7 linked regions of the Homo sapiens genome follow. The protein of the gene in region 5 purifies or fractionates together with the protein of the main gene of each other region. This does not show direct contact. Each region holds a gene or a part of one and is shown on either strand. Other genes may lie near its edges.

Region 1 (4,298 bases), on a different chromosome or scaffold from region 5:
GAAGAAGGAATTTAAGTTAGAAGAGGAATGAAATACTGCTTTCTATTTAAGTTAGAAGAGGAATGAAAGGCCGGGTGCAGTGGCTTACGCCTGTTATCCCAGCACTTTAGGAGGCTGAGGCGGTGGATCATGAAGTCAGGAGTTTGAGACCAGCCTGGCCAGTGTGGTGAAATCCCATCTCTACTAAAAATACAAAAAATTAGCTGGGCATGGTGGCACGCACCTGTAATCCCAGCTACTCAGGAGGCTGAAGCAAGAGAATTGCTTGAACCAGGGAGGTGGAGGTTGCAGTGAGCCGAGATCGCGCCACTACATTCCAGCCTGGGTGATAGAGTGAGACTCCATCTCAAAAAAAAAAGAAAAAAAAAAAAAAAGGAATGAAATACTGTTTTCCATCCACAAAGTTTGTGAGGATGAAGAACAGTGGTACTTATGTAGTTGTTTAAAGTTTAAGTTGCTGCAGCTTTTCAAACAGACACTTTAGTGGTAAGAACTACATTTTAAAAATGTGTATGCTTTTTACTTATCAATTCCATTATACTGAAATATCTTTACGAAATAGATGTGTTTTTCTTAGTATTGCTTAAAATAGCAGTGTATTTAGAAGAACCCATATAAAGATTTTATGAACAAATTTCAGTGCATCCATAGGATGGAATAATATGTAACTATTGAGGGTGTCAGTAGATACAGAGATATGTCGACGTGCAAAGATGTACTTTGCTATATCAAGTGAGAAAAAAATCAGTTTGTTACACATATACACGAACAGAATCTGCTCGTGTTAGCTGCAAATCTGTAGAAAATATAATCAAACTTGTTTCTGGGGATTTGTAAGTGAAGTTTTTCCCTTTCTCTTATCTGTGATTTCTGCAATGAACATCTGAAGTTGTAGTTAAGGTTCATTACTAATGCAATAATCCTTGGGAAGAGAAGGAATATGCTTCTTGCATAGATGCAAATAATTCCTCACATTCTATTATTTATTTTTATTTCTGTGGTTGGCTATTTTCTGTGAACTTTTACCCTCTTCAGAAGAAGAGGGGTCGTGTTTACCTGTTCCTGTAGATTTTATTATATATACATTTTATTCCATAATTATCTTTTCATTATATATAGATTAACATGTAAAAAGTATGAATTAATCATTTTAGTTGAGTTATATATTTATGAAAATTAAAATAGCAAATATAAATGATTATTGCTATTGCAAATGTATTGCGCTACTCTATAGGAGTTTTCTTTAAAAATATTGAACTCCCAAGCTGTGTTCATCCATTTTTCCTATCCATTTAGTCATCAGACATAAGCCAGACACCTATTATGTGGCAGGCATATTCTACTATCTCTCAGGATCCTTCCGTCTTTGAAAACTACATGTTTTCCTGCTGGGCTTGAGCAAGCTGAGAGATTTAAAATTGGGGCATTAGGACTTAATCTCAATTGAAGCTTTTCCTCCCTCCTTTCAAACAAAAGCATTTCTGGAGGTAGAAAATAGTAATAGATAACCTTTAACTGCCCTTTTGAAAATTTATGTCTTGGGGAAAAGACTGTTTTAGTTGTTTTAAGAACTAAAATGTGGTACATAAACAGCATGGAATAATATGCAGCCATAAAAGAAGGAACGAGAGCATGTCCTTTGCAGGGACATGGATGGTGTTGAAAGCCATTATCCTTAGCAAACTAACATAGGAAGAGAAAACCAAATACAGCACGTTCTCAATTACAGGTGGGAGCTAAATGATGAGAACACACAGATACCTAGAGGGAAGGAACACACACTGGGGCCTATCAGAGGGTGGAGGGTGGGAAGAGGGAAAGAAGCAGGAAATAGAATGAACAGGTACTGGGCTTAACACCTGGGTAATGAAATAATCTGTACAACCAACACCCTTGGTGCACATTTACCTATGTAACAAACCTGCACATCCAGCACATGTATCCCTGAATGTAAAAGTTGAAAAAAGCTCCACAAATAGTTTCATAAATCCATTTTAAAACAAGAAAATTTATAACAGTCTTAAATCCTAATATGAATGATTGGAAATATCTGATGTACATACATTGTATAAATCTAAGTGTTGACAAAAATGAGCCCATGCTATTCATTTGAATTCCAAGTTTTCTTTGACTTAAAGTTTATTGAAAACCAAAGTAAGAATTGGTTTATTTTAGAAATTTGTTTTTGTTTTCACCTCTGCTCTCTTATTCCATAGTTCTTTTAGGAACTAAAATTTATCTAAATGCTGGTCATCTGACTGGAACCGCCCCAGACCTGTTGTAACATATTCTACTTAATGTAAGACACCAGGGATTGTATGATGCCCCATTATTTTATGCCTCAATAAGAGAATTATTTAAATGCCGCAAATTATAGTAAATCATGAATTGTAAGTGGTATTTCAGTGGAGACAACATGGAGACAATGATCATCTCAGAATCACTAAAATACAATGTTAGCTGTAATATTTAAAACACACCTGAAAGTGCAGGTATAATTGTATCATCTCAATTCAAATGTTGTCTTTAGTGGTATTAGTAAAAATTAAAATATCTAACAATTATTGAGCTGTTATTTGTGTTAGGAACTATTCTATATCTTTTGTGCAGAGTCTCATTTAAGCATTACAGTGGTTTCCCGTAAGAAAGCTACTATTTTCATTCCTATTTTATTGATGAGGAAACTGAGACCCCAAAAGGCTAAGCAACAGCCAGGAAGTGACAGAGCTTCAAGTAGGATTCCAGCTCAAGTTGAATGTCATCCAAGGGCTATGCTCTTTGTATTCATATAGGATGCTCTTTCATTAATACAGCGAGTAAAGAGAGATAATAAATAGTGTGCTTTTTTCATGGGAAAGTTAAATGTTTGTTTTGAAGGCAGAGTAATAGCAGGCTATTCAGTGTTTGCAATTACATGAATCATTGCTATGGCTGTAGCTAGTGCACTACAATTTCCTAAAAAGTCTTGTCACTCTCATAGGACTGCTCTACATCTGGCCTCTGCCAATGGGAATTCAGGAGTAGTAAAACTCCTGCTGGACAGACGATGTCAACTTAATGTCCTTGACAACAAAAAGAGGACAGCTCTGACAAAGGTATGCAGTAGCCAACTATATCAGCATGAGGTGGGTTTGATTTCAATACATAGCATAAAAATGAGTTTTCTCCTTTAAATATAACTTAGGTGGTGAAAGCTGTGGAATGTTATTTTGAATTCCTAGGATTTGTAATTTGTTTTTGGTCTAATACTGACAGGCCGTACAATGCCAGGAAGATGAATGTGCGTTAATGTTGCTGGAACATGGCACTGATCCAAACATTCCAGATGAGTATGGAAATACCACTCTACACTACGCTATCTACAATGAAGATAAATTAATGGCCAAAGCACTGCTCTTATACGGTGCTGATATCGAATCAAAAAACAAGGTATAGATCTACCAATTTTATCTTCAAATACTGAAATGCATTCATTTTAACATTGACCTGTGTAAGGGCCAGTCTTCCATATTTGGAAGCTCAAGCATAACCTGAATGAAAATATTTTGAAATGACCTAATTATCTAAGACTTCATTTTAAATATTGTTACTTTCAAAGAAGCATTAGAGGGTACAGTTTTTTTTTTAATGCGCTTGTGGTAAATAATTTTTTTGAAAGCACTGAATTTGTAGAAGGTAATACTTACTATTTTTCAATTTTTCCCTCCTAGGATTTTTTTCCCCTAATGAATGTAAAATGGCAAAATTTGCCCTGAAATAGGTTTTACATGAAAACTCCAAGAAAACTTAAATATGTTTCAATGAATAGAGATCCTGCCCCTTTGGCAAGTTCCTAAGAAACAGTAATAGATACGAAGGTGATGCGCCTGTCAGTGGCAAGGCTTAAGATATTTCTGATTGCTCATGAGGCAGAAGTGGAAAGCGGAAAAGAGAGCAATCAGAAATATCAAGGCCAATTTGGAAATTAGGTAATAGAGGGAAAAGACCATGAAGAGGTTGTGTGTGTGTGTGTGTTGTCGTTGTTGATTGATTTGTTCCCTTTGTATGTTGAGACAAGGTTCTCTTCAATTTTAGAGAATGACAGTTTTCAGTTTGGGAGAGGGAGTTAGTGGGTTGTAAACTGAATAGAGATCAATTTTAGGAGGCCTCTGAGGAACCAGATTGGCAGTGAATAGGTGGTAATGTAAGGGGAAACCCTTGAGCAGAGGGAATATCAAGTAATTAACTGACTTAGTATCCTATTCTGGTAGAAATGGCCAATTAGAGTCTCAGCTCTGCTTTCAAATCTAGAGTGTCTG
Region 2 (4,298 bases), on a different chromosome or scaffold from region 5:
GCTCTTTCACTTTTTATATTCTACTTAAATTTTTTAATTTTTGTAAAAATAGAATCTTTTTATGTATATTATGAAATGTAAAGTTTTAATTTTTAAAAAGTGGTTCGGCAGGCTATTTAATCAAATAAAATAATAGTGCTTGGTATTAGATTTAAAAATTACAGGGAGGTGTATGTGTGTAATCTCCTCTGAAATTGAGATATCTGTTCCCTTGTTGGGCTTATTTTTCCATAAGTATGGACCTTAGGGAAAAGAGATTTCCTCCATTATTTTGTGCATGTGAGAGAGTGAGGAGGAGGGAGTGAGGTTTTTTTGTTTGTTTGTTTGTTTGTTTTTTTGAGATGGAGTCTCACTCTGTCGCCAGGCTGGAGTACAGTGGCATGATCTCAGCTCACTGCAACCTCCGCCTTCTGGGTTCAAGCGATTCTCCTGCCTCAGCCTCCCAAGTAGCTGGGACTACAGGCGTGCCACCATGCCCAGCTGAGTTTTGTATTTTTAGTAGAGATGGGGTTTCACCATGTTGGCCAGGGTGGTCTCGATCTCTTGACCTGGTAATTTGCCCTCCTTAGCCTCCCAAAGTGCTGGGATTACAGGCGTGAGCCACCGTACCCGGCAGGAGTGAGAGTTTTTTTTTAAGTCAAAGTAAAGGAAGTTTATATTCTTCAGCTTTGGTGTAAAAGAGAAACCTAACTACAATTAGAAGCTTATTTTATATTCCTGCTGGTTTGTTGACCTGCAGTTTTACTCTGACAATAGAGAAATTAACATTTACTTGATATGCTTTATTCTCTGTTAGTTTACAGAAAAGACGTAAAGAACTTAAGATTTATATTTTGTAGATGAGATATTAATACTTTTTTCCTTGGGTATTTAGCTAAAGTAGTAGAGCTAGGATTGTTTGACTTGAAGCCCTTCTCTCAGAACTCTCCAAGGTGTCACCTAGTGTGTATTCCTGTGAGTTGTATGTTCAGCTGATGCTTCCTTTTTCTTCCTTCTGTGTATTTTGTTCCAGGAAGGATAGTGTCACTTTAGTTGGCTTCATCTTGTAAACTCTGTAGTTGATTCCTTGATTCTTCCAGGCCTAGTCTTCTCTTTTCCATTTTCCTTCTCTTCCCATCCTCATGGGAAGGAATAATCAGTGATCAGAGAACATGAGCTAAAGACTGGCCGATCTGGCTTTGGATTCATTTTCATTACCTTCCAGCTTGGTGAACTTGGGCATGTTGCTTAATTTATTTAAACCTTAGGCTCACAGTTGGTAAAATAGGGATAGAAAAGTATCTACCTCACAGGCCAGTTGTGGTACGTGAGATGATAGAGAAAAAGGTTGGCTCTGTACCTTTATAGAGTTAATGCTCACTGAATACCTGTACTTTTTCATATAGCATCTTGCTTTCCAAAGTACATAATTTAGGCCAAGGTATCTTTTGGAAATTATCATATGAGCATGATTTTTGTCTTCCTCAGTACAAGTACAGAAAGCTCTTCTCAGGATGTTGAAAGTACCTTTTCTTCTCCTGAAGATTCTTTACCCAAGTCTAAACCACTGACATCTTCTCGGTCTTCCATGGAAATGCCTTCACAGCCAGCTCCACGAACAGTCACAGATGAGGAGATAAATTTTGTTAAGACCTGTCTTCAGAGATGGAGGAGTGAGATTGAACAAGATATACAAGGTTGGCTCTTTTAAAATTTGTCAGTTACTCTTTGCTTTTTCTGTTTTTTGACTATTTGGAGGTTAAGCACCTCGGTACACTTCCTGACATTACTGTACATGCTACAGAATTTCCCCCCCGCCGAGATGGAGTCTCACTCTATCACCCAGGCTGGAGTGCAGTGGTGCAATCTCAGCTCACTGAAACCTCCGCCTTCCGGGTTCAGGCGATTTTCATGGCTCAGCCTCCCAAGTAGCTGGGATTATAGGCATGTACCACCACACCTGGCTGATTTTTTTTTTTTTTTTAGTAGAGATGGGGTTTCACCATGTTGGTCAGGCTGGTCTTAAACTCCTGACCAAAACTGATCTGCCTGCCTTGGCCTCCCAAAGTGCTGGGATTATAGGTGTGAGCCACTACGTCTGGCCCATGCTTTTGAATTTTGACATGGTAATTGTGACTTCTTTTGCACTTTTAGTGCCCTGTAAACTTGGCTCACACACCCCCATTATACAGATATGGAAAGATCTCCCCCTCAAAATTTCTGGGAAATGATCACCTTTGCTGAGATTTTTCTGCATCAACTGATTTCTGTTTCTGTGGTAGATTATCTGAACTCCAGCTTAAGTTGACCCAGATTTAGCATTTAGCTTTTCTGGACTTCTACTCTTCAGTCTTTTCTATAGGAAGCATGCTTTACTGAAGGTTAATGAGGTATTTGAGCAGTATGCACAATGTAAAATTGGATTATTCAGCATTGTATTCTTAAAAAGCCCTTTGACCTCATTGCCCATATTGCTCAGACTAACCTTACCCCCCTTCCTGTCTCCTTTTGTCTAGGGAACAAAAAGATGATGGAAAATACAGATTCTTCCCAGATTCCTATTCAGAGAAATTTAGCCTTACCCTTTGTTCTGCTTTCTCATTTCAGATCCTGTCTGAGGCATACATTTTACAGCCAAGTGACCCATTAAGATCTTTTCCTAAACAGCTTACTCTTTAAGAAATTTTGGCAATTATAAAAAATAATGTTTTAAAACCTTAATGTAATTATATTGAACTAAAAGCTTTCATAACCTAAAGTACTAGCTGCTTTAAAACTGTATATTGCTTCGTGGTTCATAGAGGGAAGCTGAAATCATTAGGACCCTAGCAATATTCTTTGCTTAGTTAAAGTAGCCTGTGTGACATAGAATGAGATCATTTTAGTGAAGCTTTTGTTTTTCTTTTTCCAAACAGATTTAAAGACTTGTATTGCAAGTACTACTCAGACTATTGAACAGATGTACTGCGATCCTCTCCTTCGTCAGGTAGAATGAAAATTGATGGGAAAGTAGTCAAGGCATGTGCTAATGGTAGATACAAAAATCAAATTTGATAGTTTTCTTTTAAACCCAATGGGAATCCCCCTAAGATAAAAGAATAAACTTAAGATATAAATTGATGTTGTTCTGTTTCTTTATTTTAGGCTAAAGAAAGCAATATACCTTTTACCAAAAACAGGACCTAACACATACTTGTTTGAATTCTGCCACATGGAATTTTTTCATATTGTAGAAAGGTTTGCTGTCAGATACTAATAAAAATTACTTACAAAATGGTACTTTAAGTAGTGCAGTGGGAAAAACTGAACTAGAGAACAGTTATCCTTTCTTTCCCAAAGTTCCATGATTCTTCAAGATCTTTAATTTAACAACATGCGTTCAAGCTTTATTTCTGTAATAATAAATTCCAAAAGAGAGTTAGGACAGAAATTCTTAACTATCCACAGAAGTGTTTGTTAGAATAAATTCTGGGAATGGAGGGGTAAAGAGCCTCCAGGAGTGTCTCTGAACCTATTCTGGTTAGGGGCATGGACTTTCAGTGGCTTCTGTATGAATGACTGGAATGGGCAGAATGGCTTGGAGGAGGGGAGCCCTGTTTCTAGAATGGCATTGAGGCACAGTCCCATTGCTTAACAGGAATGCACCATGTAAAACGCAGGCTTCCCCATTTTTTCTTTTGTGTTAATTCAAAAATCTTCACCAGTAATTAAAATAGGTCAAAGTAAGTGTAAATTTAATTTGATTCTGTGACTGACTTTCATCTCTTTTACTAGTATTTAGTTAGCATTTAAGCATTGCTCTATTTTCTCTATATTGAAAATACACAAATGTGCTTTTCAAATGTTGTAACAAACAAGTATGTCATTAAAAGGGTCTTCACTCCAGATAGATAAGTGGTCACTTAACTCTAAGAAGCATGTGGCTGAATTAAATATGTTAACTTAAATTTTGTTGCCAAATAAAATAGGCATGGAACAAAATAGCTGCTAACCTTTGTAGGTCCCAAATATGCTAAGCATTTTCAGCATGAGTGGTCAAGGTGATTCTATTTTTAGATAAACAGAGTTTTGAATTAGAAGGATGCATATGTTTAGGTTATGTTTGGTTTTAGATCTGAGGAGTTTAGAGTTGAAAGAGTCTTCAGAGAGGTCATGTAGTTCAGCGATCTGGTTTTCAAGGTTTTGGAACTGAGACATAATTGATCAATTCCAAGGCTGTGTTTTTGTGGACTTCATCTTGAATCAACAAGATGTTTTAATATGAACCCCACATTAATCACATCATAAACAGTAATTTCTTAATAACCTAAACTTTATCA
Region 3 (4,298 bases), on a different chromosome or scaffold from region 5:
GAGCTGGTGTTGAGTGGGGTTTGGCCGGGAGCACCGTGTACCTTCTACCCAAGACTTGAACGTCCCAGAACATCAGGCCCTTGGCCAGACCCTGTAGGCCTCAACGAGGGCCATCCCATCTGAAGTCAGAGCCCTGGAGATGTTTAGGGCACAGCTTCTGACTTGGACTCTCTGAGTTCAAAGCTGGGCTTTGCCACTTCCTGGTGATGTGACTTTGTACAAATCGCTTCTACCTTCTGGGCCTCCTCTGCAAGTGCAGTGGTTGGGAGGGGCAGCAGTGACCCCGTGAAGCAGCAGCAGGGTGCCGCACAGGCATTCAGACTGGAGAAGTGGCGGGGCAGCTCCGGTGACTCCCGTTGTCACTTGGAGTCACGACACCATTCTCTGGCCCTGTTCCCTCATGCTCAAGCTTTCTGCATGTCTGTAAGGTATGAGGAGGTGTCAGTCTTAAGTTAGGGAGAGAAAGCAGACTTCCTCTCCATCCAGATTCTGATTTCTCTGTGGTCCACTTCTCTCCCTCTGTTCTGAAAACCCTGACTCAGACCTTACCCCTATCTCACCTTCTGGAATTAAGAAGAAGAGAAATGGTTTGAACAGAAAAGGTTCCCTGAGGGCCCTGTGCTGGGGCTCCGGGGCACATTTGAGCTGGGCTTTGAGGCATGAATAGGAGCTCACTGGGAGGCTAGGAAGAGCGCTCCAGGAGAGGGAGCTATTTGATCAAAGGCCAGAGGTGAGAGAGTCCTCAGGCCTGGCCTCTGGTGAGCTGCCTGAGGAGGTGTCCCTCTCTAGACTCTGTTCCTTCCTGAGAGTGGAAGCCAGGAATTATAGACTCTTATGGTTTATTCCCAGGCCATCGTGGCCCGAGCCAACAGTCTGAAGAATTCCGGAGTCCCCGATGACATCTTCAAGCTAGATGATCTCTCAGTCCTGGTCAGTGGCTACCCACTCACCTGGCCCCTGTGCTAGCCGGACCATTCAATCCCCACTCACTATAAAAGTCCCTGGGGCCATTGTTATCCCATTTTGCAGATGGGAAAACTGAGTCTTGGAGTGGATAATACCTTGCCTGAGGTCACTTTTGGAGTCAGATCCCTAACACAGGCACTCTTCCTCCCAAGTCCCTGGCTGTCTCCCTTTGGCCCTGAAGCCCCCTCATCTACCCCCACACCCAACTCAGTGCCCTGCCTGATCCCCAAGCTTGGCAGACGCCTGGTGGGGAGGAGACTCCCCTGACCTGGGTCTTGCCCCTTCTACCCAGGACTTGAGCCACAACCAGCTGACAGAGTGCCCGCGGGAGCTGGAGAACGCCAAGAACATGCTGGTGCTGAACCTCAGCCACAACAGGTGCCAGGCCAGTGGGGGGCAGGGGGCAGGTGGGCCCTGTGGGGTGGCTGGTGCTGACTCAGGTGGCTCCTGCTCCCCACCCGTAGCATCGACACCATCCCCAACCAGCTCTTCATCAACCTCACTGACCTACTATACCTGGACCTCAGCGAGAACCGCCTGGAGAGCCTGCCCCCGCAGATGCGCCGCCTGGTGCACCTGCAGACGCTCGTGCTCAATGGAAACCCCCTGCTGCATGCACAGCTCCGGTGGGCGCCCCCTCGGACCGCACTCCTGCAGAAGCCACCCTGAGGAGTCTGGCCGGGCCCCTTCACTTCCCAGGGCCCTAACCCTTCTCCCTTAGGCCCAGCCATCCCTCCGTGCAGGCAGCACCCCTCAGTGTACAACCTCCTAAGTATCATGTCCACCTCTCAGTCCTGTCTTCCCGCTTACACACCCCGCAACCACCCTTGGGCTTGTCCCTTCAACCAGATGTGACCTCACACCTACCCTCTGGGCCCTGTGCTTTTGGTCCTGCCCTGCCAAGCCCCACCCTTAACACTCCCTAGGTGGGCCCTGGCCCTGACCACTCACGTCACCCTGGCAGGCAGCTCCCAGCGATGACGGCCCTGCAGACCCTGCACCTGCGGAGCACCCAGCGCACCCAGAGCAACCTGCCCACCAGCCTGGAGGGTCTGAGCAACCTCGCAGGTCAGGCAGCCCCAGGAGCCCCTCTGAGCTCGGGCCCCCTCTGGGCCCTCTTGCTTCCTTGGGTGGAAGGGGTTGAACCCTGCTCTTCGGACCAATACCCAGAGGGAAAAGGCTGGAGTTATGTTACAGTGACTTTTGCGATTATGATGATGCCTTAACACTGACTTTATGCCTAGAAAACTCCCCCGCAACCCCCATGTGAGGGAGTTTGTCCAAATGGAGAAACTTGGGCGCACAGCAGTTGTCACTTGCCTAAGCCACACAGCTCAGAGGTGGCAGAGCTGGGGTTCACACTAGGGCTGGCTGCCCTGGCACCTGGTGTATGGGCCCCAGCTGATGCACCCCACCCTGCACCCCAGACGTGGATCTGTCCTGCAATGACCTGACACGGGTGCCCGAGTGTCTGTACACCCTCCCCAGCCTGCGCCGCCTCAACCTCAGCAGCAACCAGATCACGGAGCTGTCCCTGTGCATAGACCAGTGGGTGCACGTGGAAACTCTGAACCTGTCCCGAAATCAGCTCACCTCACTGCCCGTGCGTCTGAGGCCCTCAGTAGGGGGATGGGAGGAAGGCCGTGAGCCTGGCCCTGACCTCCCACCCCTGCCCGTTCCCCCTCCAGTCAGCCATTTGCAAGCTGAGCAAGCTGAAGAAGCTGTACCTGAATTCCAACAAGCTGGACTTTGACGGGCTGCCCTCAGGCATTGGCAAGCTCACCAACCTGGAAGAGTTCATGGCTGCCAACAACAACCTGGAGCTGGTCCCTGAAAGTCTCTGCAGGTGCTGGGCAGGGCTGGGGCTAGCAGAGGCACTTGCAGCACAGAGAACCCCGGGATCGTAGTCAGAGCCCACCTTGTGGTCTGTGCAAGTCAGACAAAATGAAGATGGGTTAATTCACCTTTTCTTTTCTTTTCTTTTCTTTTTTGTTTTTGAGACAGAGTCTCGCTCTGTCGCCTGGGCTGGAATGTAGTGGTGCAATCTCGGCTGACTGCAGCCTCTGTCTCCCAGGTTCAAGCGAATCTCCTGCCTCAGCCTCCTGAGTAGCTGGGATTATAGGCGTGCGCTACCACGCCCGGCTCTTTTTGTATTTTTAGTAGAGATGGGGTCTCACCATGTTGGCCAGGCTGGTCTTGAATGCCTGTCCTCAAATGATCAGCCTCCCAAAGTGCTGGGATTACAGGTGTGAGCCACCACGCCCGGCCCAGTTAACTCACCTTTGTGGATGAAGACCACAGTCCCATGCCAGCCATTCCCAACTTGAGCCCCTGAGAGCACCCTTCGGGGGGCACTGTTAGGGACAAGGCCACATGACGTGGGAACGCAGTGTTGCTTCTCTCCCCTTCTGGAGATCACAGTGCCCGTAACATGGTCTCTTGGCTCTGAGAAGTCCTTCAGGCAGAGAATGGAGACCCCCGCCAGTTCCTCTGACCCTACCTGCCTCCCCTCCCCAGGACTAGGGGTTTTCTTGCCCACTTCCCCTTGTCTGTCACCTGCCTGAGGCCCTGGCTGGCCCTGTCTTCACAGGTGCCCAAAGCTGAGGAAACTTGTCCTGAACAAGAACCACCTGGTGACCCTCCCAGAAGCCATCCATTTCCTGACGGAGATCGAGGTCAGGCATGCTGGGTTTGAGAGGGCTCAAGAGAGACAAGCAAGGGGTGTGCCCTGGAGCAAGGGGGACCCAGCAGAGGCCTCCTGAGGGAGGTGGCCAGTGCCAGGGTGCCCGTGGGGAGAAGGTGGGCCCCACCTCCCTGCATCCAGAGTACATTCCACAGTCTCATTTAAGCCCCCAGCCAGCCCCAGAGGTGGGTGGGAGGAGAACCCAGTTCCCTGACCTCTCAGCCCTGGCGGCTGCAGACAAGAGCAAGAAACTGGATTGGTGTGTCTGGGAGGTAGGACCCAGGCTCAGTGCCGGCTCTGCTCACCCTATGGGGCAGGTCCTGGATGTGCGGGAGAACCCCAACCTGGTCATGCCGCCCAAGCCCGCAGACCGTGCCGCTGAGTGGTACAACATCGACTTCTCGCTGCAGAACCAGCTGCGGCTAGCGGGTGCCTCTCCTGCTACCGTGGCTGCAGCTGCAGCTGGTGAGTGGGGAAAGGTCTGGCCTGGGAACGGGGGCTCCTCTCCAGGCCTCAAATGACACATCTGTAAATTGGGTGGCATACAGCTTTCTGGACCCTGGTGGGTGGAGTTGGCCCCTGGTTGGTCGCATGCCCAAGGGGGCAGCAGGCCCAGTGAGGGCTCAGCTGTTTGCCCCTCCCCTAAGCA
Region 4 (4,298 bases), on a different chromosome or scaffold from region 5:
AGGGAGGAACCCGGCGAGGACCTGCCTGCCCTCCAGGAGTTGGGTCAGAAAGGGGTTGACACCTGTAGATCAATAATGCTAACCGAAGACAGGAAGGGATCTGATATAAAAAGGGCGTAGACAGTGTTCTGAAGGTTTGGACATGAGAGAGAATCACAGCCGGCCAGTGGTCTCAGAAGTGGCTTCCTGGAGGAAGTGGCATTTTGAGTTCTTGAAGGCTGTATGTACCAGTCAAGATGCTTTGGCTGCTGGGACAGAAACCCTGACTGGACTGACATTGACAAGGGGAAGTATATTGGCTGGAGCACAGCAAGCCCGGAGGCAGGGCAGGATTCCCCGCCAGCCTCACCAGTGGCTCCGGCCTCTTTTTCCCACAGCACCTGCGCAGCTGGTTGGGCTGGGCCATCCTCTGTGGGTGGCCTCATCCTCAGGCTGACTTGCTTCATGGAGGCCAGCTGGCCTTGGCTTTCCCGGGCTGCCACTGTGGAGCCCACACACCGTCTCTTCTGGTGGCTCTCTCCAGAGAGCTAGCAGTATCTCCCTGGTAAACTTTCATGAGTCTGTCTGGCCACTCCTGCACCAAGCTCTTTGACAAGGACCATGGACTTAGGGGCTCAGTGCCTGTGGCAAAGGGGGGTGGGTCTACCCTGTGACCTGTCAGACTCATCCTGGGACTGGGGAGAGCCGGCCTCCCTGAAACACTTGGGAAGGTGGGGGCCTGAATGGAAACTGGGGAGGCTTCAAGGAAGTGGGAGGGAGTGGGCTGCCACTTGGGCCTGGCACCCAAGAACATGCCTTCTGGAGAGTAAGTGGAAAATTCTGGGCTGAGGTCATTGGGAAGCCTGAGTCACCTGGCAGGGACGTGGGTTCCAGTTCGCTGGAGCGAGGGGAAGAGCTAGGCTGCCCTGTGCAGGCAGGGCTTTGCACTCTTCTGGGTAGAAGCAGGACTCGTGGTGGGGGCAGCCTTTGGAGGGTGCATTTCTGCTTCTGCAGCCGGTGTCCTGCTTCCATGTGATGGTTTAAACTCTAGGCAAGCGTGTATAGTAAAGGGAGTTATTTGCAAATGCTGTATTATCGCAAGTCAATTATTTCTCACTCTCTTGTTGCAGTGGAATTCAGGCGGGATGTTATCAGGAGAAAGGTTTAGTACGCACTTGCAGAAGCTCATTAGCACCAAAGGCATGAGCTGCGCCTCCCACTTCTGGGGAGGGGTGTTTCCAACGCAGATAGATTTTCCTCTCCTACCGCATTTCACATTCTACTGGTGCATTTTGGTAGCATCCCAAACTTCTCATTCAGCACTCTGCAGCTGAGTAAAGCGATACTGGTCTCACCATGCAATTCAAAGTATTGCTCTCAAATGAAGAATGTTTTTCCCAACAGGAACAGTCATTTGCGCAGGCTGCATTAGGAACTCACCGTGGGGCCTTGAGACAGTGCGGTGAGCTTATTATCCCCTGGTGGTGCCATAGGTACCCCTTCCTCACCCAGCAGGACGGAGGCCCTCCCCCCATAACTGTTTCTGCAGCCTCCTCTCCAAGCTGGCCCCTCTGTGGCCTGCGGCCTCGGGCCCTGATCCATGGCAGGGGCACTGCTGCCCCACCCGGCTGCTTCACCGGCCCCAAGTTGACTCGTGGGCCTGCGGGTGCTGTTGGTTCAGGCCTCACAGCCACCGCCTTTCACTTGAGCCACGGCCACACAGGAGTCCAGTTGCGGAGAAGGGGTCGCACTGCCCCCAAGGAGTCCAGTTGTGGAGAAGGGGTCACACTGCCCCCAAGGAGTCCAGTTGTGGAGAAGGGGTCACACAGCCCCCAAGGACTCCAGTTGTGGAGAAGGGGTTGCATTGCCCCCAAGGCAGCCTGCAGCCATCAAGTAACCATTTTGTGAGGTCACAAAATGTCCCCCAGGCTTGTTTCAAGATGCAACCAATTCTGTGGTACGTTTCCTGCTCCGGAGCTCTCTGCGGGCCAGGCTGAGGCCAACTCCTGCCGAGACCACCTCCCTCCCCAGCCCTTCCCTGACTGGCCTGCCCCCCTCATGCCCCTGCTGGGACAGGGCTCACATCCAGTCCTGCCATGGGCTCTGCTTCTGGAACCCAACATAAAGCCATGCCCCTTGTTTCAGGTAGTTCGTAAATATCGGGTCTTTTCATCCTAAGTCCCCCTTTCATTCATCTTTTCTCCCTGTCCTTCCCAAATAGCCCTCCTATATCAACCTGTGCGGAGGGAGCCTGTCTCTCTTCTCCTCAAGGCTGTTGGAGAACCAAGCTGGGGATGGGGTGCACGTGTTCTTTTCCAGAACAGCCCAGAAGTGGGGTTCAGTGTGGAAACTTCGCTCTACCTCTCTCCAGCACTAACCTGACCTGGCTCCTCTGGGGTGGAGAGTCCAGGACTGAGCCCAGCTGCAAAGATGCAAATCTGGGTCCCCAATGCAGTCCCTTGCCCTCTGGTGAGGTGACCCTGGGGCCAGAATTCACCTGCACGCAACCAAGATGTCAGACTTGTCCCTAGGCCTATTTCACTTGATTTGAAAGTGAATTTCATGACTTTTTTCTCTATGAATTTGCTTTTCTGAGGCTGGCCAGCAGATTGCACACCAACTGAGTGCTGCTGGACACTGGTTTGCCATTGGGGCTGGGCCCTGCCCCTTTGTTCCACAGGAGTTGGGAGAGGTGAGGGGCGTTCAGTGCCCGGCAGGACACAGGACTGTCCAGCCTGAACAACATCCTGCCTCCAGTTGGAACCCAGCCGCAGTGGAGTCACTGAGGGCTGTTCTGCAGCTGATTCTCCTAAGCCAAACACCCATCTTGGCAGATCGTCTACAAGGTTTTAGGAATGTGACAAGACTGGTGTTCCAGACGGATTTTTACCAACAGTCTGAGCTGTTGGAGGGCGTGAACAATGTGCCTGTGACCTTGGGCTGTTTGTGCGATTCCCAAAAGATGCTTCTGGGTTTCTGAGTCCACAGAAAACTCAGCTGTGGACAGGCCTGCTGGTCCCCAACGGCCCTGGGCCCCACCCCACAGCTATTTCTGTCAGAGGGCCAGCTGTCTCCCTTCTTCCTTTTCTGGGTGACTCTTGAGCCACTCGTTGGCCTGGTACTCAGGGTTGGGATGTGTGTGTGGAGAACATGACCTGGCTTCTAGCCCTGCCTGTCCCCCGTGAGCCCTGCCCGTCCCCAGTGAGTGTGAGACGGGAAAGGAGAGAGGGGCGAATGGAGGTTGCTTCTAAGACCCAAGGTGTGCCAGGTACTCTGGAAGCTTTACTCCCATAGTTTGTTTAAATCCTGTGAAAAGAGTTCCGAGTCTCTCTGTTTGACAGAGAGAAAACAGACTCAGAGACACCATGGGACATGGCTGAGGCCACCTATTAATTAGGGGCTGCCAGTTCATGGCCCAGGCTGCTTCCTGGATCAGCCCCTCAGCTCCCTCCAAGACCCCATTCAGGCTATGTCCTGCAGGCAAGCCACCTTCTTCCTATCCCTGGCACATGTCGTCCCCCACTGACCTGTGAACCACCAGGGGTGACATTTCAGGAGAGAGAGTCCCATATCTGTCTCTGCCTTACTGTATCTCTCATCTTCTTTTTCCATCCTTTCATCTTTAAAAAATTGATTTTTATTTCATCAGAGTAATATATGTTTTTACCCATATTCTCAGGCCGTTCCCCACACAGTAGGCTGGGCAGTCCTTTTAAAATATGTCAGATCATGCCACTTCTCTGATAAAAACTTTCCAAGGGTGTCTTGTATCACTCCGTAAAACCCAAGTCCTTAAACAAGCTACAAGACCCTCAATGATCTGGTAATGATCTCCTTGTTTATAAATAACATACATATGTATTACACATTAGTTTATCAATTGCAGATGCTGTCAGCTGGCTCCTGCATTGAAGGACGGGACTTGGTGTGCATGGGCCCAGTTCAGGCCAGCTCCCTACTTTCCTTCTCTGCATCACACTATAGTTCATTGTAGTGTGGGGCTAAATGAATATTCACTGGCAGGACAGACTGCTTAAGAATATGGGTGCTAGAATCAGATTTCCTGGGTTCAAATCCTGATTCTGTCCCTTATACCATGACTTAGGGCAAGTTACTTATCAACTTTGTGCCTCAGTTCCCCCATAGGTAAGATGGGAAAGTTTTAGGAGTATACTTCACCCAGGGCAGTTATGAGGGTAAATGAGATCTTTCACAAAAAGACCTCTGAACAATGACTGTCACATAGTAAATGCTCAGTAAATGCTGGTGATGATGATGATCTTGCCAGCTGTGTAAATAATGTCAATTGCAGAGCCAAG
Region 5 (4,298 bases):
GCAGTCCGCACAGGGAGGATGCACAGCCCGAGCATAGCGCCAGTGCCAGGAAGCTGTCACGAAGGAGGACGCCGGCCAGCAGAAGTGGGGCTGACCCTGTGACCAGTGTGGGGAAAAGGTACCATCCTGTCCTGAGTGGCTGGGTTAGGGCAGCAGCCCAGGGCGGGCAGAGGCCCATGGCTTCGGGTCCTGGAGCTGCCGGGGGCCAGCCGGGGCCACAGAAGTGCCTGGAGTGGCATTTGCCACCTGCATGCTGGGGACTGGTGGGCCTTCTCCGGCACCTTGACAGTGTCTCAACTCTCCTTGGCCTGGCAGGCTGTGAGCGGACGGGCGGGTCCAGCTGTCAGGGGGGTCCTGCAGCCTAGGCTCTGTTTTGTCCCAAGGAGGGGCTGGGACAATCCGTGGGGTCGGTGCCTTCTCCAGCCTGGGTTCGGGAAGAAGAGTCCCCAGCCCTGCCGCCCTGTGCCTGCTCTGCGCACCCTGGCTGCATTGCCGTCTCTGCTGAGGTGATGGGTGAGAGCAGCACACTGCTGAGGAAGGAGGATGTGGGTGGAGAACGTGGCTGAGGGACGTCAAAGGCGGGATGTGCTGGCCTCAGCGCACAGGGTCACGAGGCTCTGCAGCTCCATGCAGGGCCGCCTTGGAGTGGGTCGGCCTCTGTGCACAGCTTGCCGCTGGGTGGCGGCTGCAGGCTCTCCTGACGAGGCCATGGGCAGCTGGGCTCACCTGCTGCGTCTTGGGGGCCTGTGGCTGGTCCATGTGTCCCTCTGGCAGTGGAGATGGGGTTGGCGGCTTAGCTTCTGGGTCCACCCTTTGGTGGTTCCGACCTTCACTCCACCCCACCGAGTCTCCGGGCTGGGTGTGTCTGCTGGTCCTACTGCTTCTTGGGATCTCTTGCGTTGTCTCCAGCTGCTTCCGCCTGTGGGGCAGTGCTGACTCTCGGCAGCCCCGTCAGGGCCTCCTGTTGTTTGCGGTATTTGCGGTGGTTTCTCCTTGGCCTTTTGAGCTGCTAGGCTGGCCACTGCACCCCGCGAGAGTTGGCTGTGCTGTGGCCCTGCCCCTGCCCCTCCCCTGGGGTGCCCAGGTGCTACTCTGTGAGGGAGCCTGACCTCCTGGCAGGCTGGTGCTTCTCAGCCGGCGTCTCAGCCCCTCAGGAGGGCCGCATGGGCTGTCTCCTCCACATCAGCCATGCACTGGTCCTCTGGGGGTGCATTCCTAGCACAGCTCCTGGCATGCGTAGGAGGTCAGTGGGGCAGAGGTGAAGTCAGGGCAGGTCTGTGGCTCGGTTCCCCTGTGCCTGAGCACTCCCAGGTCCGATCTGAGGCTTTAGTCTCCGTGTCCTCTGCCTGCCTAGCCAGCCTCTGTCAGCGCTGGAGGTGGGGGTCCTGTCCCAGTTGGGTGATTCTGGTGCCTGGTGACAGGGTTCACAGCCCCCTCTGTCACATCTGACCAGCTGGCCCAGACAGGGCCCGGGTGTGCATGTGTGTCTCTCTGTGTGTGTATACATGTACATGCAGTGCGTGTATGCCTGTATCTGTGTGCATGCAGTGTGTGCCTGTGTCTGTGCGCATGCAGTATTTGTGTGCATGTGTGTGTGTGTGCCTGTGTCTGTGTACGCAGTGTGTGTGCCTGTGTCTGTATGCCTGCAGCGTGTGTGTGCATGTGTGTGTGCGCCTGTGTATGCAGTGTGTGTGCATGTGTGTGTGTGCCTGTGTCTGTGTATGCAGTGTGTGTGTGCCTGTCTGCGTATGCAGTGTGTGTGTGCCTGTGTCTGTATGCCTGCAGCGTGTGTGTGCATGTGTGTGTGTGCCTGTGTCTGTGTATGCAGTGTGTGTGCATGTGTGTGTGCCTGTGTATGCAGTGTGTGTGCATGTGTGTGTGTGCAGTGTGTGTGCATGTGTATGTGCCTGTGTCTGTGTATGCAGTGTGTGTGTGTGCATGTGTGTGTGTGCCTGTGTGCATGCAGTATTTGTGTGCATGTGTGTGTGTGCCTGTGTATGCAGTGTGTGTGTGCCTGTGTCTGTGTATGCAGTGTGTGTGTGCCTGTTTCTGTGTATGCAGTGTGTGTGCGCCTGTGTCTGTGTGCCTGCAGTGTATGTGTGCATGTGTGTGTGCCTGTGTCTGTGCATGCAGTGCGTATGCACACAGTACGTGTGTGCGTTGGTGCACTCAGTACGTGTGTGTGTGCATGTGTTCTGGTGTCTGCACACAGTGTGTGCCTGTATCTGTGACTGCACATAGTGTGTGTGCATGTGTGTAAGTTTTTGTGTGCAAATGCAGGTGTGCACGCCTATGTGTCTCTCTGTGCATGCAGTGTGTGTGCATGCAACATGTGTACCTGTATGTCTACAGATTGTGGTGTGCAGGTCTTTGTCTCTATGTACACGTGTGTGCATGCATGTGTCTGTATACACTGTGTTTCTCTGTGTGCGTGGGGCGTGTGTGTGTGTCTTAAGTCTCTCAACTGTGTGCAGTGTGTGTGCATCTGTGAGTCTGTGTGCACACACATCTGCGTGTTCGTGCACTGCTTCCTGCTTTAGAAACCCATCAGTCTTCCCCCCAACATGGCCATGATCTGATTCGGGAATATTTAGTGTTCTAAGACGGAAGCATGAAGACCTCAGGGCTGGGGACCCCCCACACTCCCACCCCCACTCAGGCCTGGGCAGCTCAGGCAGTTCCAGCGGGGCAGGGGAGAGGGGGTCTACCTGGGGACAGAAGGGCTTGTCCCGGTTGCCCTTGCAGCCCATGGGGGCAGCTTTTCACCCACACTCGGGTGAGGAAAAAGGGATTTGGACCACTTGGAAAGAGGCTGAGGCTCCGACGTGGGGAGGGGTGGTGGGGAGGGACCATCAAGGAGGGGTTCAGCTGAGGAGGCACTGCCTCAGCCCAGCGACCACAGCGTTCCTCAGCAGCAGCTGTGCTGCCTTGGGTGGCCCAGGCATGGCAGTCCCTCCTTGCTGTGGGGGAACCAGCCTGAGCTGCACCCCCTTTCTCTTTGGCTGCCGGTGGCTGCCTAGCCCATCTCCCTCTGGCCACCTGCCCCTGGTCCTGCGTCATGATGCATGCTTCCCCTGATGACAGACAACTGCAGAACCTGAGCTGGGCCACTCAGGGGTGTGGGCAGCTGAGCCACGCAGGGGTGTGGGCAGCTGAGCCATGCAGGGGTGTGGGCAGCTGAGCCACGCAGGGGTGTGGGCAGCTGAGCCACGCAGGGGTGGGCCATGCATGGGTGTGGGCAGCTGAGCCACACAGGGATGTGGGCAGCCGCTCCCTCCGAGCTTGTCTCCTCCTCACTCTGTGGTCACTCGGGCTGCTTTGACCCTCGGGGTCTTCCTCTAGCCCATGCAGATCAGTCTGTCCTCATGCCTGAGCGTCCCACTCTGGGGACAGGCAGAGGGGCCAGTGTGGGCTGTGGGCCCCAGCGCCCATATCTGGAAGGGGGACAAAGTGGGGGCCCACCAGATGAGCTGCCCTCTTGCCTGCTTACAGGCCCCAGGATCCCCCCAGGCTGGGCTGGGGCCGAGCTTCAGCCAAGCGGGGTCAGCAGGTGCTGGCGCGGCTGCGAGAGGGAGCAGCCTGAGCCCAACAGTGGGTTTGCGTGAACAATGGGCCGCAGCGCCCCACATCCTCAGGCCCCTGGCTGGGGACCCCCGTACAGGCCAAAGCCATGGCCGAGGTGATGCCAGGTGGGAGCTTGTTCTCCAGGCGCTCTCAGGCCCTCCCGTGTGGCCTGGCTGCCTCAGGTTCACACAGGATACTGCGTGGAAGAGGGGGAAGCCCTTGAGACAGGCCCCCAGCTAGCCCGCAGACCCCAGGAGCCCTTGCGGTTCTGCACTCATGAACACTACGCACCCTCTCTCCAGCCGGGTTCTGCAGGAGTAGGGAGCTTTCTGGCCCCCCAGGGTGAGGCCTGGCACAGCTGCTTCCTGGTTCTGGAAAAGCTGGACTTGTCTGTCAGGACCTTGGGTCAGTGCAGCAGGACCTTGTGGCTTGAATTTCAGCCTGTCCTCAGTGCCAGGTGGGGGAGGGAGGGTGTGTCCCTGCAGGAAGCGCACCCTCCTAACAGCACCGCTCTCCCTGTAGCCCCGTATTCCTGCCCGCCAGCATCTGCTCCTCTCTAGCTAAGGTACAGTCTGCCAAAGTCAAAGAAACTGCCTCTTCCAGAGGTTGCAGTGGGCCGAGATCGCGTCACTGCACTCTAGCCTGGCGACAGAGCAAGATTCCGTCTCAGAAAAAAAAAAAAGAAAAAAACTACCTCTCCTTGAGCCAGCGGGGTCTCAGGGCCCTTCTCAATG
Region 6 (4,298 bases), on a different chromosome or scaffold from region 5:
TCAGAGTTGGGCATCTATGTATTTTGTTTATTATGTACAAATGACCTGAAGACAGCATTTTACCCACTTGATAAGTTCTCAAATAGTCTTTGTTTCTTAGTGCCGTCCATATCCTGAATAAAGATACCGTGTTTTCTTTCCTTAAAGGGAGTCTTTATTTTGATAACCATTTGTGGGGGGACTAAGTAAAAACTGCTTGAATTAACATTTAAGAAATGGTAGAGATTTTGATAGAATTTGGAAGGGAGCAACTATAAAAGTAAGATATTTGTTTTCGAAGGAGGATTCCTGTTACTCTGCTTATCTACCATTTTCTGTTAGTGCATAGACCAGTAGAGACATCTGTGGACAGAGTAATACAATGTTTACATCCAAGAAAGTAGCCATCAGGGAAGGATGACTTTTTAAAGACATACATTAGAATTTTATTAAAATATATGCAAAAAATAGATTAAAGCTTTTATTAATATATTTATGGTAATTGCTTGTGATTCTTTTACGTTTCAAAAGCACTAAGTTTTAAAGAGCTGCCATTGTTAGTATACTTGTAGAAAGTTTTAACCTTTAATTGGCATTTCAGTAACATTTCCTTGAAACTGATATTTTCATGATTGATCCCATGTCTCGTGAATTTTTAACAGCTATAAATTGTTACTGAAGAAAGGTGTGCATCACAAAACAGACCCTCCAATATAAAACAATGTGTTTCTTACTATAACTTGGTTTCAGAGAATTAAAAGTGTTTATTTTTGTATTTGAAAAAAAGATATTTCTCTCATCTGTATTTGAACTACAAGAATGAAAAAATTTTAGCAATGGCTAATCTTAATGTTGATTCTCAAGTCAACTTTTTAGTAATTTTCAAAGTTAAATGAAGAATATATATATTTTTTAGCTTAAAAACAAAGCGAATCTCAAGCTTCTACATTTACATAAAAAGATAGTTGTTGGGGCAAGGGGGAGGCATTAGGTGATGCTCTGAAATGCTAGTGATAGATTAACAGATGAGGTTTAAGGAAACTATTGGGCCTCATTTCCAACTACTCTTCACTTTTTAATTTTATTAAGGTTAAGTTACCTATGACTGAAGATTTGTTTTCTTCTAATTCTGTTTTCTTTTTTGATGGAAGGGGTTGAGAAGAACAGACATTTTCTTAATGCTTATTGTCAGTCATTCTCTCTTTTTTGCAAAGAAAAATGCCAATTCAAATCATTTGTCATTGCCATTTTTGCCCCTAATTGTTAGCACATCAGACATGATTAAATCATTCCTGCTGAACTGACCTGATGGCAGGTATTTGCTTAGTTAGTGAATATTACTTATGTAATCTACTTGCATTCCTTGTGTGTTTTTGGAGGAGAGTTTAACTGTGATTAGAAGCTTATTGAGCTGTAACTCTTTAAGTAAGGCTGTGTAATGACAACTTTCCAAATAGCCTTTCACAAGACTAAGGCTTATACGTTTATATGGTTTCAGTACACCTTTGGGAGCCTCACTGGATGAACAAAGCAGTAGTACACTCAAGGGTAAGAGAAGGTTGCCTTTCTAAATCTGTTCTTTATGACAGTTCTACTTCTTTGTCCTCTGGGTAAAAGTGTATATATGACTTATAAAAGTGATATTCATGTTTATAGTATATGCTATTCTGAGCTAGAAGCAAAATGGAGAAACTTTGTTATAAACCGTAAAACAGTAGGGAGTTTAAGCAAATTGCCTAGCCTTTTCACAACGTGAAACTTATATCTTTATTGTCCAGTTAGGTATTATAAAGACTAATTAAATATGAATATATAATATGCAAATATAAGGAAAATACTTATTGAGTGAACAAAAGTTTAGTCAACTTTCGTGCAGCATTTCTTTGCTTACATTTACTGAAATTGCCACACCTAAAATTTTACCACCTGTTCAAGACAGAATTCTAAAGTTCAAAGTACAACAAGCATGTGCAGGCAGTGGCAAGGCATATAAAAAAACATTTACAGTGTCAGGAAAATCCAGCTCCTGACTTAATATGAGATGGATAAGAAGAATATTTGCTCCAGGATCTGGTTTTCCATGAAACTCTTGGTATGTAGTCTGATTGAACATCTTCAAAAATATAAGTTTAAAACAGCCTATAGGTTGGCTTCTGAGAACTTTATGTTGCTGGAAAAGTGGTTTCTTTACGTTAAAGTAAAAGCTTATACCTGCTTCTTGAAGTTATATAATCAGAATAATGTCTGAGTACATTCAAGTCTGAAAGATTTTACTGTATAAGATATTTTGCTGGGTGAATTTAACTAAAACAGTGATTTTATATGAGGGTGGAGAGGAACAGAACACCAGGATGAGTTTTCAAATGTGTCTTTCAGGTGTGCTTGTGAGAAATGGAGGAAGTTTTGAAGATGATTTGTCATTGGGAGCTGAAGGTATGTTTGTTTGGAAGAACTGTATTTTTGTGTAGTTTTCAAATTTAAAAAAAATGAGAAAGCTGAATGGTTTCAGGTTTATGATCCTCAAGCTAAATTTAAAGGTCTTGAAAATGGCTCAGGCATATTTTACATTACCTTTCTTTGTTAATAATCTAGTCATAGTCTGTAGGATACATGTAGGGATGACTCTGAAAAACTATGTGAAGTGTCCATCTGTCTTTCTTGGACTAAATGCTTAAAGGAACAGTTTGTAACAAACCGTGGTAATATAACTGAGGGAAGAATTGTCCTGAAAAAGGAAGGACACTTAAATATTTATACATGGGAAAACAAAATTGAAGCTTATTTTTAGCGCAAAATAGACTTATGTCATACTTACAGCTGCAGCTTGTCTTTCTCTTTGCATTTAAGTGTCTCCTGTCTTTTCCCCATTTTCCTGATTTTTAGAAAATTAAAGGGGAAAGACAAAATAGCAGAGCTAATAGAATTTTATTAGAAATCATGCTGGTGTTTATTCCAGAAAGCATTAGATTTTAAAAAGTGTGTTGTGCTATTTAAAAGTTTTTACAAGTTATGTAATGTTTTCCAGTAGATTTATAATAAAGCTTTCTTGTACAAAAAATAAGAATTTTTAATTATTTTACTGGTGTTTTAAAAGCTATTTTATAGCTCATTGATCAAATTGCATAGATTATTCATAGCTGTATAGCTCAGTTATTAATGTGTACTTTTTTAAAAAAAACAAGGATTTTTAAAAAGTCTTTAAAGCTTACAAGTTGGTGAATAGTGAATTTATACATTGAATTTAATATTCTTGATTTTTTCCTGTTTCAAATGCATCTGTAAAGTAAATTACTTATTTAGAACCTTCTAACATTTAAAACTCTGGAATATGCAAATATATTAGTTCTTATTATTTCTGTTCATATATTTTCAAGCTCTATAAAGAGCTTAAACTTACTGATTCCCACTCAGTACAATTGAACATGTTGTCAATCCGTTATTAAAATGCACTTTGCACTTTTGATATTTGCCTTGGTAGTTTGATAATATTGAATGATTTTATTGGAAACCAGAACCTAAAAAGGAGTCTCATGAAAGAGTAAATCTATTATGTTGTTTTACTGAAAATTATTTCAAGGCTATTTCCATTCATTAAGTAAATAATTACTGAGTGCTGTGAGTTAGGCACCTTTCTGGTGGATGTACAAAGAAACACAAAATTGTCATAACTTTGTAGATCAGAAATGAAAAGCAATTCATGTGTGCTGAAATAGATGTGTTTATAATTAATTTTATTCTTTGTATTTGTCTATAAATTTAACTTTAAACATTAACACTTACCTGTTTAGAACTTTAAGCTAAAGTTCTATCATAAAGTTGAAAGGCAATTTTTAAAAGAAAGTTTATATTGAAATAAGTAGAAATTTTCATGTTATATGTGTGAAAAATCAGTTATAACCTTAAAAAAAATTCACATTAGAAACTGACATATACTATTGCCACACTTAATGTTAAATCATGTTTTCCTCTTAAGATATTATTCATTAATAGCTTTTAAATTTAATAATTAGTACCACATATATGGTACATATCTTCCTCATTACTTATTTCTAACCTGTTAAAGAAATTTAACTGGTTCCCTATACGTTTTTTTATTTTAAGCACTCAAGTGAGAGTAGTTAGTTTCATGTTGCCACAACACAAAAACACCCTTCAAAAGCTCCTGGCCCTGTTCTTATCTATCTGTATATCACTTTTAATAATGCAGATTTAATGGACCAAGATAAGTGTTTAATATATTTGGCATTTAATTCTAATATTGTAGGTAATTAGATTTCTTGATAATTGTATCATAGTAGTTATAGTCCTACTAACAATTG
Region 7 (3,691 bases), on a different chromosome or scaffold from region 5:
GCTTCCAGTGCTAGCATAAAGTGGAGGGGACCACTTGGGTAGCATTTGGCTGCAGCTTTCTCATAGTTTTTTGTTTTTGTTCTTTAAAGATCTCTTAAGCTCATTAATAATGTGAAATATTCCCTTTCTAGGAATGCAAGAAACAACACCAGGAGGTCATATCAGTTTACAGAATGCATCTTCTGTATGCTGTGCAGGTATGGTTATGCCCCTTGAAGTATCTGGACATCCTAAAGAAATACGGCAGCAGATGTTGACAGAACTCCCATCATTTAACTAGGAGAATGAACAAGAATTAGAGGAGAATCCTTTTCACTGGAAAGCCTGAATATGCCTTTTGCATTGCTTTGGATTCTGTGTCAGGAGCCTTGTGCCCTGTTTACCAGGAACAGCCCCATCTTTTAAAGCAGGGCCTCACTCTGTCATGCAGGCTGGAGTGTAATGGCATAATCTCGCCTCACTGCAGCCTCGACCCACGGGCTCAAGTGATCCTCCCACCTTAGCCTCCCAAGTAGGTGGGATTACAGGTACCCACCACCGTACCTGGCAAATTTTTGTATTTTTGTAGAGATGGGGCTTTGCCATGTTGCCCAGGCTGGTCTCAAACTCCTGAGCTCAAGCAATCCACCCGCTTCGGCCTCCCAAAGTGCTGAGATTACACGCATGAGCCACCATGCCCCACCCTCCCATCATTTATTGAGGAATGAGGGATGATGTGGTCCTCCACTGGGAAGACGGGGGCTTTATTTTCCAGCAATGCTGATCTTCTTAGTTACCAGTGCTGCCTTGGCTCTATGATGCTTGGTGTTCTGGCTGCTGGACTCACATTTGCAACTGAGACCCCAGATAGCTTTTGCTGAGGGTTTTGGTAGACACTGCCACCTCATCTTCCAGCTGGATAAAGGCAGGGCCCTTTCTTTGACTCAGTTCCTCATAGAAATTTGGGAAATGATAGGGCTGACATTCCTGTGAAAGATGTGGGAATTAGCCCAGGTCTTCATTGCAGTCAGCCATCTCATTCCCCAGAGAAGAAAGTGCCATGGCTTAATTTAGGTTCTAATGAGTATCTTGTGTTTGAATATCCTAGGGCCAGATGGATGAAGATGTCCAGAAAGTACTGAAGCAAATCCTTACCATGTGTAAAAACCAGTCTCAAAAGAAGTAAAGTGGATTCCTTGGCAGGACACTGCCCCTTGTCATCTGTCTTTGTGTTAGATCCAGAGTTGTCGGCAGCCGCTGCCATTGTTCTCATTCGTGGTATGCACTGTGGCCTAGCGTAGCTTCTTCCCTTTCCAAAGGTTTCTGAGGACTTCTCCCAGGAGAAGACTGCCCGCCTCAGAACTGCTTAGAGACTTCAAACCAGCAGAGGTGAAAGTCCCTGTCATCCCTTCAGATTCCAGAGCTGGGATCAGCCATGCCCAGAGGTCTGGTCCTGATGCTGGCAGGGGGGCCCCCTCCTCCATCCCTGACTGGCTGAGTGGCTTTATCACCACCGAGTGATGTGCTGAGGCCTCCTGCAGTGAATGCTCCTTCCATTCCTGTACTCGGGCAGTGCCATTCAGCACAGGAGAGCTCTTTTTGCCTTTGGCTTTCAATTCCAAAACATGATTTAATTTCTAACTAAATTAGTATGGCACTAGTTATGAAGTATCTGCTTAAAACCCTTCATCATGATATCCTGTGGATTTAAAAACTCTAATTCCATGTTTTCTTCCCATCTGCCTTATATATCTCATCACCCTGCTTATCAATATTCAGTTTGATGAGCACTATTAACTAAAATATGAAACTTAAAAACAAAAGCAAGTTGTCCTTAAAAGTTCTTTTTTTAAGTAAATTGTTGACATACTGCAAATTTTCTATGCAAACTTGCCTCCTGCTGTTATCTGTGAAGCTCAGGAAATCCAAACATTTGTGTTTCAACAAGGGACAGTAAACTGTGTGTTTACAGCCAAAAGAAATGCCTCATAGTTCTTAACCTCAACTTTTGTAGAAGTATTTTTTTCTCTGTAATATTTTTATTGGCTCATAAAGATGTTTTCATATCTGAACTCCTAAATAAGTGAAATTACAGTAGATTATATTAACAAAATACTTTTTAGGTAGCCATGCTTGAGACTTTTTAAAAATATAACTTTTTCCTTAAAGTTTTCAGCTATAGCAAAAGGTAGTTATGTATGCCAGACCTAATATGAGCTGCCACCAACACCCCTAGAACTTTCAGCCATGGTGTCTTCAGAATTGTAGCGCATTTCTGAATCTAGCAAATCCTCCTTTTACCCGTTGAATGTTTTGAATGCCCTGACTCTACCAGCGCCCATAAATGATCTCTAGAAGGACTGTTAGTACCAATCTGTTTTTCAACTTTGAAGCTAAAAACCCTGATATGGTAATATTATGGTGCATAGCAGAGGTCTCGGAAAAAAAATATTTCTGTTCACTTTACTTTCAGGTTAAAAATGTTTCTAACACGCTTGCAACTTCCCTTATGGCATTAATCTTGTTGAGGGAGAGAGACAGAATCCTGGACTCTCCAAAGTATTTAACTGAAAGTAGGGCCTGCTCTGACAGGGCCCATGTCCCACAAGGCTGCTTGGCCTCAGTGGGTGCTTGGCTGTGCTGGATGATATGTTGATCTGTATTGGATAAGGACCAATGACAGCAAAGCAAAAATGGCTTTAAAGCTTGGTGTTACTTTTCTTAAGTTGTTTAATTATAGTTAAGCAATTTCAAAAATGCTCCAAAGAAATGTGAAAGGACCTTTTGTCACAGCACTTCAGAAAATACACAACAGCCCCTTCTGCCCCCGCACAGAAATGCTGCAGAGTATATAAAACTTGAGACATTTTTGTAGGATGCCTGACGAGGTGTAGCCTTTTATCTTGTTTCCGGATGCATATTTATTACGAGTACTCTGGTTAAATATTGAAAAGTTATATGCTGTAGTTTTTAGTATTTTGTCTTTGTAATTTACAGAAGTTATTGGAGAAAATAAACTTGTTTCATTTTGCATTTCTGGTGTTGATTTTTGGTGTATTCAGAAGCATATCTGCGTGGCTTCTGAAGATCAGTTCAATAGCATTTCAGTGTAATAGGTTTTCTAGTCTGTGCTATGCTCAGCTGGTATGAGTTGTCCGCACTGTCTCACACAAAGTCTCACATCATTTCCTTTTCCCAGCTCTTGGATTCGCCCTGAGCTCTGCCCTGAGTATCAGCCGCTTTGGGGCAGTTGAATCACAGTTGCCTTTAATTCACAATTGCCTCTCATTTAATCTGCAGTCTGTTTAACTGTTTGGAAGCCTCCGCTGGATTTTTTTTCCCTCTTGCTTCTTGCTTTTTTTGAAAAAGTAATACATACATATGTAAAAAAAAAATCCAGATACATTTTCCTGCCCCATTACAAAGACAATTCAATTAATTCCTGACAAAACTCTTGTCAGGTGAATTCTGGCAAGGTTAAAATCATAATTAAAATTGTTGCAGGTTATAATCATAATCAAAATTACATGAAATAGGTACAGCTACTTAAGAAGTTAGCATTGTTTATCATACTCCAATGTAACAAGGCCATTTCCCTTCACTTACAACATGATTCCACCTCTACTTCAGTTTCATTGTGCCTTCCTACTATACCCTGAAACTTTATTTCAAAGAAAGCATGTGTGTGATACTCAACTGAACCTTTTATTTC

Evidence for each region.
Region 1: the proteins of BRF1 (region 5) and POTEI purify together in Homo sapiens (affinity purification with mass spectrometry, with the first as the bait; one large-scale study listed by BioGRID). This does not show direct contact.
Region 2: the proteins of BRF1 (region 5) and USP28 purify together in Homo sapiens (affinity purification with mass spectrometry, with the first as the bait; one large-scale study listed by BioGRID). This does not show direct contact.
Region 3: the proteins of BRF1 (region 5) and FLII purify together in Homo sapiens (affinity purification with mass spectrometry, with the first as the bait; one large-scale study listed by BioGRID). This does not show direct contact.
Region 4: the proteins of BRF1 (region 5) and LRRFIP1 purify together in Homo sapiens (affinity purification with mass spectrometry, with the first as the bait; one large-scale study listed by BioGRID). This does not show direct contact.
Region 6: the proteins of BRF1 (region 5) and ITPRID2 purify together in Homo sapiens (affinity purification with mass spectrometry, with the first as the bait; one large-scale study listed by BioGRID). This does not show direct contact.
Region 7: the proteins of BRF1 (region 5) and RAI14 purify together in Homo sapiens (affinity purification with mass spectrometry, with the first as the bait; one large-scale study listed by BioGRID). This does not show direct contact.

The regions. Positions count from the first base shown.
Region 1 is NC_000002.12:130,502,577-130,506,874, reverse strand, and holds part of POTEI (POTE ankyrin domain family member I), read left to right. Parts: intron 1-2,980; coding exon 2,981-3,095; coding exon of another isoform or gene 3,096-3,125; intron 3,126-3,255; coding exon 3,256-3,429; intron 3,430-4,298.
Region 2 is NC_000011.10:113,812,552-113,816,849, reverse strand, and holds part of USP28 (ubiquitin carboxyl-terminal hydrolase 28), read left to right. Parts: intron 1-1,467; coding exon 1,468-1,676; intron 1,677-2,894; coding exon 2,895-2,965; coding exon of another isoform or gene 2,966-2,974; exon of another isoform or gene 2,975-3,095; intron 3,096-4,298. UniProt on the Homo sapiens protein: Deubiquitinase involved in DNA damage response checkpoint and MYC proto-oncogene stability. Involved in DNA damage induced apoptosis by specifically deubiquitinating proteins of the DNA damage pathway such as CLSPN.
Region 3 is NC_000017.11:18,251,815-18,256,112, reverse strand, and holds part of FLII (protein flightless-1 homolog), read left to right. Parts: intron 1-849; coding exon 850-930; intron 931-1,258; coding exon 1,259-1,344; intron 1,345-1,430; coding exon 1,431-1,592; intron 1,593-1,930; coding exon 1,931-2,034; intron 2,035-2,393; coding exon 2,394-2,569; intron 2,570-2,654; coding exon 2,655-2,812; intron 2,813-3,556; coding exon 3,557-3,641; intron 3,642-3,966; coding exon 3,967-4,114; intron 4,115-4,296; coding exon 4,297-4,298. UniProt on the Homo sapiens protein: Is a regulator of actin polymerization, required for proper myofibril organization and regulation of the length of sarcomeric thin filaments. It also plays a role in the assembly of cardiomyocyte cell adhesion complexes.
Region 4 is NC_000002.12:237,630,401-237,634,698, forward strand, and holds part of LRRFIP1 (leucine-rich repeat flightless-interacting protein 1), read left to right. Parts: intron 1-4,298.
Region 5 is NC_000014.9:105,213,364-105,217,661, reverse strand, and holds part of BRF1 (transcription factor IIIB 90 kDa subunit), read left to right. Parts: coding exon 1-118; intron 119-383; coding exon of another isoform or gene 384-510; exon of another isoform or gene 511-4,298.
Region 6 is NC_000002.12:181,894,553-181,898,850, forward strand, and holds part of ITPRID2 (protein ITPRID2), read left to right. Parts: exon of another isoform or gene 1-146; intron 147-1,477; coding exon 1,478-1,527; intron 1,528-1,999; exon of another isoform or gene 2,000-2,071; intron 2,072-2,355; coding exon 2,356-2,412; intron 2,413-4,298.
Region 7 is NC_000005.10:34,829,601-34,833,291, forward strand, and holds the end of RAI14 (ankycorbin), read left to right. Parts: intron 1-131; coding exon 132-197; intron 198-1,087; coding exon 1,088-1,165; 3' UTR 1,166-3,012; downstream 3,013-3,691. UniProt on the Homo sapiens protein: Plays a role in actin regulation at the ectoplasmic specialization, a type of cell junction specific to testis. Important for establishment of sperm polarity and normal spermatid adhesion.